Regions from separate parts of the Homo sapiens genome. Here region 1 is linked to region 2. The links come from fine-mapping of genetic effects on gene expression. A gene starts in region 2. The other region holds a variant in brackets. All regions are shown on one strand. Distances are between the middles of the regions. Region 1 has its middle 71 kb from the start of STPG4. Region 2 holds the start of STPG4 (sperm-tail PG-rich repeat containing 4).

What was found. PIP is the estimated chance that this variant, and not a neighbour inherited with it, causes the effect.
Region 1: its variant is fine-mapped to the expression of STPG4 in whole blood (TOPMed, PIP 0.90).

What each region holds. Positions count from the first base shown.
Region 1 is chr2:47,082,358-47,085,266 of GRCh38, reverse strand. No RefSeq gene overlaps it. Among named protein-coding and RNA genes, the nearest start is that of STPG4, 71 kb to the left of the region's middle. The variant C/G (reference allele first, on the strand shown) is at 1,285.
Region 2 is chr2:47,153,793-47,156,701 of GRCh38, reverse strand. STPG4 (sperm-tail PG-rich repeat containing 4) reads left to right here and starts at 1,394. Exons shown (of 7, transcript NM_001163561.2): 1 at 1,394-1,531. The coding sequence starts at 1,451. RefSeq lists an enhancer at 717-876.

The sequences.
Region 1 (2,909 bases), 71 kb after region 2:
GGCAGCACCTGGCACTGAGATGCTGTTCTAGAATGAGATAGAGGCGGGAGATGGCCACGTGTATCTTAGCCAAGGCTCATTGATAGAAAGGTTAGAGAAACCCCTCAAACTAGCAAGGGGAAGAAGGGGGTCAGATTGTAAGGATTTAGAGGCATCTCATCGACAAAAGTGTAAACCAGGGGCTGGCAAGAACCATCTCTCTCTCTCTCTCTCTCTCTCTCTCTCTCTCTCACTCTGTGTCTGTGTGTGTGTGTGTGTGTGTCTTGCTCTCACTCTCTCAGGCCTCATGGTCTCCCTCCTCTCTCTCAGGCCTCATGGTCTCCCCTCTGCCTCTCTCAGGCCTCATGGTCTCCCCTCTGCCTCTCTCAGGCCTCATGGTCTCCCTCCTGTCTCTCAGGCCTCATGGTCTCCCCTCTGCCTCTCTCAGGTCTCTCTCTCTCTCTGTCTCTCTCTCTCTGTGTGTGTGTGTGTGTGTGTGTGTGTGTGTATGTGTTCTTGCTCTCACTCTCTCACCCTCTCAGGCCTCATGGTCTCCCCTCTGCCTCTCTCAGGCCTCATGGTCTGCCCTCCGCCTCTCTCAGGCCTCATGGTCTCCCCTCTGCCTCTCTCAGGCCTCATGGTCTGCCCTCCGCCTCTCTCAGGCCTCATGGTCTGCCCTCCGCCTCTCTCAGGCCTCTTGGTCTACCTTCCTCCTCTCTCTCAGGCCTCAGGGTCTCCCCTCCGCCTCTCTCAGGCCTGCTTTTTTCTCCCTCTGGAGGCTGACTTTCACTGCCTCTTTATATGTAGAGGATCAAATGCGGCGACCTCAGCTTCTCCTCATATCACTTTCTGAGTCAACATTCTAAAAGAATAGAGCCGGCACCTCCTTGGTTCAAGTCTCCAATTCCTAGGAGAGAGAATCCAGTTGGCCAGCTTGGGTCAGGGGTCTGCGCCTGGGCCACGAGCTGTGGTCAGAAGGGCCCAGACCTTTGCTGCAGGCACGGCTGCGGGGGCCCGTGTGAGGTGCGTGTAACTGGGGTGGAGGGCAGCTCCCTGGCATCCCAGGAGAGAATGAGGACCCTGTCGGAATCATAAGGGGAAAGCGTTTATACCAGCTTGCAGGAAGAGGGTGGGGGCCTGCAGAGACTTCCCCTGGAGGTGGAACCCATGGAGAAGATTCTGCAGGGCCATCTGGGCTGCTTCCGTTTCCCCCAGCAGATGCTTCTTCCTGCTCTGGGCTTTTGCCCAGATAGGGTTCCTTGCCCCTGACCCTCCTCCTTCTCGCTGATCTCAGCTTCCTGATCC[C/G]TGGGGTGCCGGCCAACTGCACTCCTACATGATTTTCTGGGGAAAGCTAGTGCCTGACCATGACCAGGTGACAGTTGTTCTGGGTAGAAGGACAAGCAAGGGCCTGAACCCATGTGCTTTTGCTGGTCTGATTCTTGGCTGGGGTCCCTACAGACCCCTTGGTTTTGGCCAAGGGCAGGGCTGCAGGCGCATAGAACCTGCCAGGCTCAAAGGGAAGGGGTTGGGCTCTGGATTCAGGGCCTCATGGCCTGCCCGTCCCACCCTCCTCTTAGCAGGGCTGGGTGGGCTTTGGGGGCCAGTGCCCAAGCCCCAGACCCTGGCTGGGCTTATTTGCAGCCTCCTCAGAGAAAAGGCAACTCTGGAGAGCAGGAGGGGCCAAGGCTGGAACCATGGGAGGCTGGGAGGTGGTGGGGGCATGAGGAAGGAAGGAGCAGGAGATGGGTGATGGGAGGAGGGAGGACGGAGTGGCAAGAGAAGGGGCTCCTGGGGATGGACTTGTAGGGGAAGGCCTCCCAGTACATACCCCTCAATTGTCTTGTTAACAACAGCCTTGCCCATATTTGAGCCCAGAAAAAGGTGCCATCCTTCTAGACAGTTGTAGGGGCTCCAAGGGGTCTAACTAGCATGGGAGCAAGCTAGCACCGTGACTGCTTTGGTGGGAGTGTGCTTTAGTTCCTGAAAACTGTAGGCAGACAGGGTGACTGCAGGAAGTTAACTCAGGCTATGACACTGCGTCTTTGGTCACCAGAGTGGGCTGAGTGGGGGCAGAGGCAGGTACTGACAAGCATTCTATTCACCTCACCCCGTTGCAGCCTAGCAGCCTGGGAGGAGGCCGTGGGGGACAGCAAGGCAATGTGCTGGGAGCTGTGCTGGTCACAGGTGGAGTGCAGGGCTTGATGAAGGCTGGCCGCTGCCCCCCTCTTCCCTGCTCTGAAGTTCCAGGGCTCCAAGGCCCTGCATGGTCACTGAGCGCCATCAAGGAGGAGGGAAGTTGCTGGAGCTTTCCCGATTGAACAGCGTCAGAGTGGACACTTGGAAATATACCAGGCAGGATCACGCCTATTCAGGCTTCTAATCCTCAGCCCCTCCTGGGCTGGGCATGGGAGCTGGACTTGCAGAATACCCCAAAGCGCAGGTTGACAAAGGCCTCCCTGAGCCCTTGTGCCCATCTGTGCTGGGGTAGCTCATTCACTCAACCCTCTGTGTGAATTTCTTGTGGCTGCTGTAACAAATGACCACAGACTTTGTTGCTCAAAACAACACAATTTTATTACCTTACAGGTCTAGAGGTCAGAAATCCAAAATCATTCTTATTTGGCCAAAGTGAGGATTTTGACAGGGCTGGTTCCTTCTGGAAGCTCTGAGAGTTGGCTTCCTTGTCTTCTGCTTCTCGAGACCACTTGCATTTCTTTCCTTGCAGCCCTTCCTCCGATCGCTCCACTCTCATTTCCGTCATCACATCTCCCCCTGTTGACTCTGACCCTCCTGCCTGCCTTATATAAGGACTGTTGTAGTTATATTGGGCCCACTGGATAATCCAGGATAACCTCCTCATCTCAAGATTCTTATTTATTTATTTATTTATTTATTTATTTTTGAGATGGAGTCTCACTCTTGTCACCCAG
Region 2 (2,909 bases):
CTAAAAATACAAAAATTAGCTGGCATGGTGGCGGGCGGCCGAGGTTGTAGTGAGATCGCGCCACTGCACTCCAGCCTGGGCAACAGAGTGAGACTTCGTTTCAAAAAAAAAGAGAGAAGCGAGAGACTGGATTGTAAATGTTGCTTTTGTCCTAAAGGTAATGACAGCTCACATTTACTGACTGCACTGTGCCAGACATGGTTGTGAACAGTTCGAGTTAATCTTTTTTATAACCTATGTGGATAGGTACCAATTTTATTATCCCCTTCTCTATAGACAAGGAAATAAGCACAGAATAAGTCATTATATGCAACCAGCGTCCAAGTCCTGGTAGTCAAGGGAGGAGAGTGATTCAAGAATGAGGGAATAATCAATGCAGCAATGAAAATTGAAGGCCAAGTTTCATAAGAGCTGAAAATCCCCACTGGATTTGGCACTTGGATCCCTGGTGAGTTCAGGTGCAATTTTAATTAAAAGCTGTGTGCAGGCCAGATTAAGATGTTTTAAGGAAAGTATGGGAAGTGAGAAAAGAGTCCATATTACTCTTGAAAGTTTGTAAAGGGAAGCAGAAACTTCATGGTATAGGGCAGTGGAGCTCTAGAGTCAGGTCTGGATTTTAATTCTGGTTCTGCCATTTGTGTGTGATGCTGAGTGAACTGTGCTAAACGTCCAAGGAAACCTTTGTTTCCTCATCCAGAAAATGAAACTAATACCTACTTTGTAGGGTTGGTATGAAGATTAAATGAGACTAATGTGTGTGAAGTCCCTGGAATACAGTAGGTACTGTATAAAATGAAATTAAGGTTGTGGAGGGTTTGTTTTTAAAGGTGAGAATGTTCCTAGGTTAAGAAGAAGCTACAGCCTAGAGAGGCTGACAATAAAAAGGGTCTATACTGAGAAGAATGGGGTGGTCTGTGGTTTCACAGCTAGTGAAACCGGCTGTGTCTGGTGCTCACTCCACTCTGCAAGTCAGAAGCAAGAGAAGTCAGCCCCAGAGTTTCTATTTGGAGGAGCTTAGAAACAATCTTAGAAAGTGGGTGCTAAGGCAGATTTCTCTTAAGTATGCCTACCAAGCACACTGCCTCCCTGTCTGGGGTGTGCGATTGGTGGTGGATTGGAAGGGAACTAATGGAGATTGTGGGTACGCTCAAGCCCTTAACAAGCCTCCCTTTTCGCAGATCCTTACCCGAGGGCTCTCTAGCAACTCCAGAGCCCTCTAGATTTTCTTCTCACAAGCTTTCATAACCGTCTCTTTTCGAGGGTTTTCCTCTGCGCAGTTCTTCGCGCGGGACCTCAAAGTGCGTGCCCGCTTCCCTTCCCTGCAGCACTAAAGACAAACCTGGCGGGTCCCCCGGAGCGGTCCCAGGCGCGCGCGCTCGGGAGCCCACGGGCCACACCCGCCTCCTAGCAACCGGAGCTCAGGTTCAGCCTAGAGAGAGAGGAGGCCACCATGGACCAGCCAGCCGTCGCCACCGCTTCCACCTCAATAAGGGAAGACCTGGTGGGTGGAGAATCATTCATCACAGCTTCGGTAAGATGGCCTGCCCCTTGCCGGCCTGGCTCCTGCTCCCCTCACCAGGCCCACTACCCTTTTCCCACCGCTCTCTAATCCCAGGCCTTCGTGCCGCTCTCGTTCCCTCTTCCTACCCTTCTCTCCCTGCCCTCACGCACGTCTCCACCTGCGGACCTTCCTTCCTGGTCTTTATTGGACATTTCCTTTGTTTTATTTCTTTTCCCCTTGCTTCTTCCCTTTTCCTTCTCCTTCGCCCTTTGTTTTCTGTATTTTTCCCTTCTTCCCACTACTAATTAAACTGGACAACTGCTTTAATATGGTGATTGGATTTCTTTCCCTTTCCGCTCCATCTGCCGGAAGACTGGGTTTTTCCTTCTGTAGTTTTACTAGACACGTTTTGCTCCGCCTCCTACTTTAATATTTATAAAAATATTTGAAGCTACTTTTGCTACGTTTTTCTTTTAGAGTCTCGCTCTGTCACCCAGGCAGGAGTGCAGCGGTGTGATCTCGGCTCACTGCAACCTCCGCCTCCCGGGTTCAAGGGATTCTCCTGCCTCAGCCTCCCGCGTAGCTGGGATTACAGGCATGCACCGCCATGGCTGGCCTTTGTTACATTTTAAAATAAATGTGGGTGAGGGTTGTTTAACCTAATCTTTTATCTTTCCCCTTAGAGTGAATTTAAAGTGGTAGATAGATGGAATTTAGATCACCTGTCTTGGGCAAAACAAAACAGCAGCTGCCAATTGTCTTCCATTAGATTGATCGCGTTTACTTCTCTCTCCTTCCCATCTCATTTTCCTTATTCTGGGGTAGGGGTGGGAGGCCTGTCTTGACCTGCCTGAGAAAGTTGTATTTCTGTGACTATAAAAGTGCAACAGAGAAGATTCAACATAAATCTCGCGAAGAAGTATCAAAGAAGAAGCTCAGCTTTAGCAGTGTCATGAGAAAATGTTTTTTAAAGAAATTAACATATTTCATAATAAAATAAAGCCCAGTGGTACTCATAAGTACAGTAGATTTAAGTTACTAGACAGGAAGAATGAATTATATCAGTTTTACTGATTATTACTTTTAATGCAGTCCTGCTTGATGACCTATATTTTATAGTAATAAAGGCATTATAAATGAAAGGAGAACTCAACATTTTAATGATTTTATCTAGGACAAACAGCAATATACTAAACGGTTGTGTTCTGTGGACAATGGGCTGAAATAAATATGAAATAATAATGGATGAATGGGTATAGAGTACTAAATATGAAGACAAAAGCTTCCTTGGAAACTGAGGAATACCAAAATAATCAGCTTCTTAACTTGGCAAATGGGATGTTAAAAATTAAAGCTACCATTTATTAAGCACTGATTGTATATGCAAGTCTTTATAAGTACAATGCCT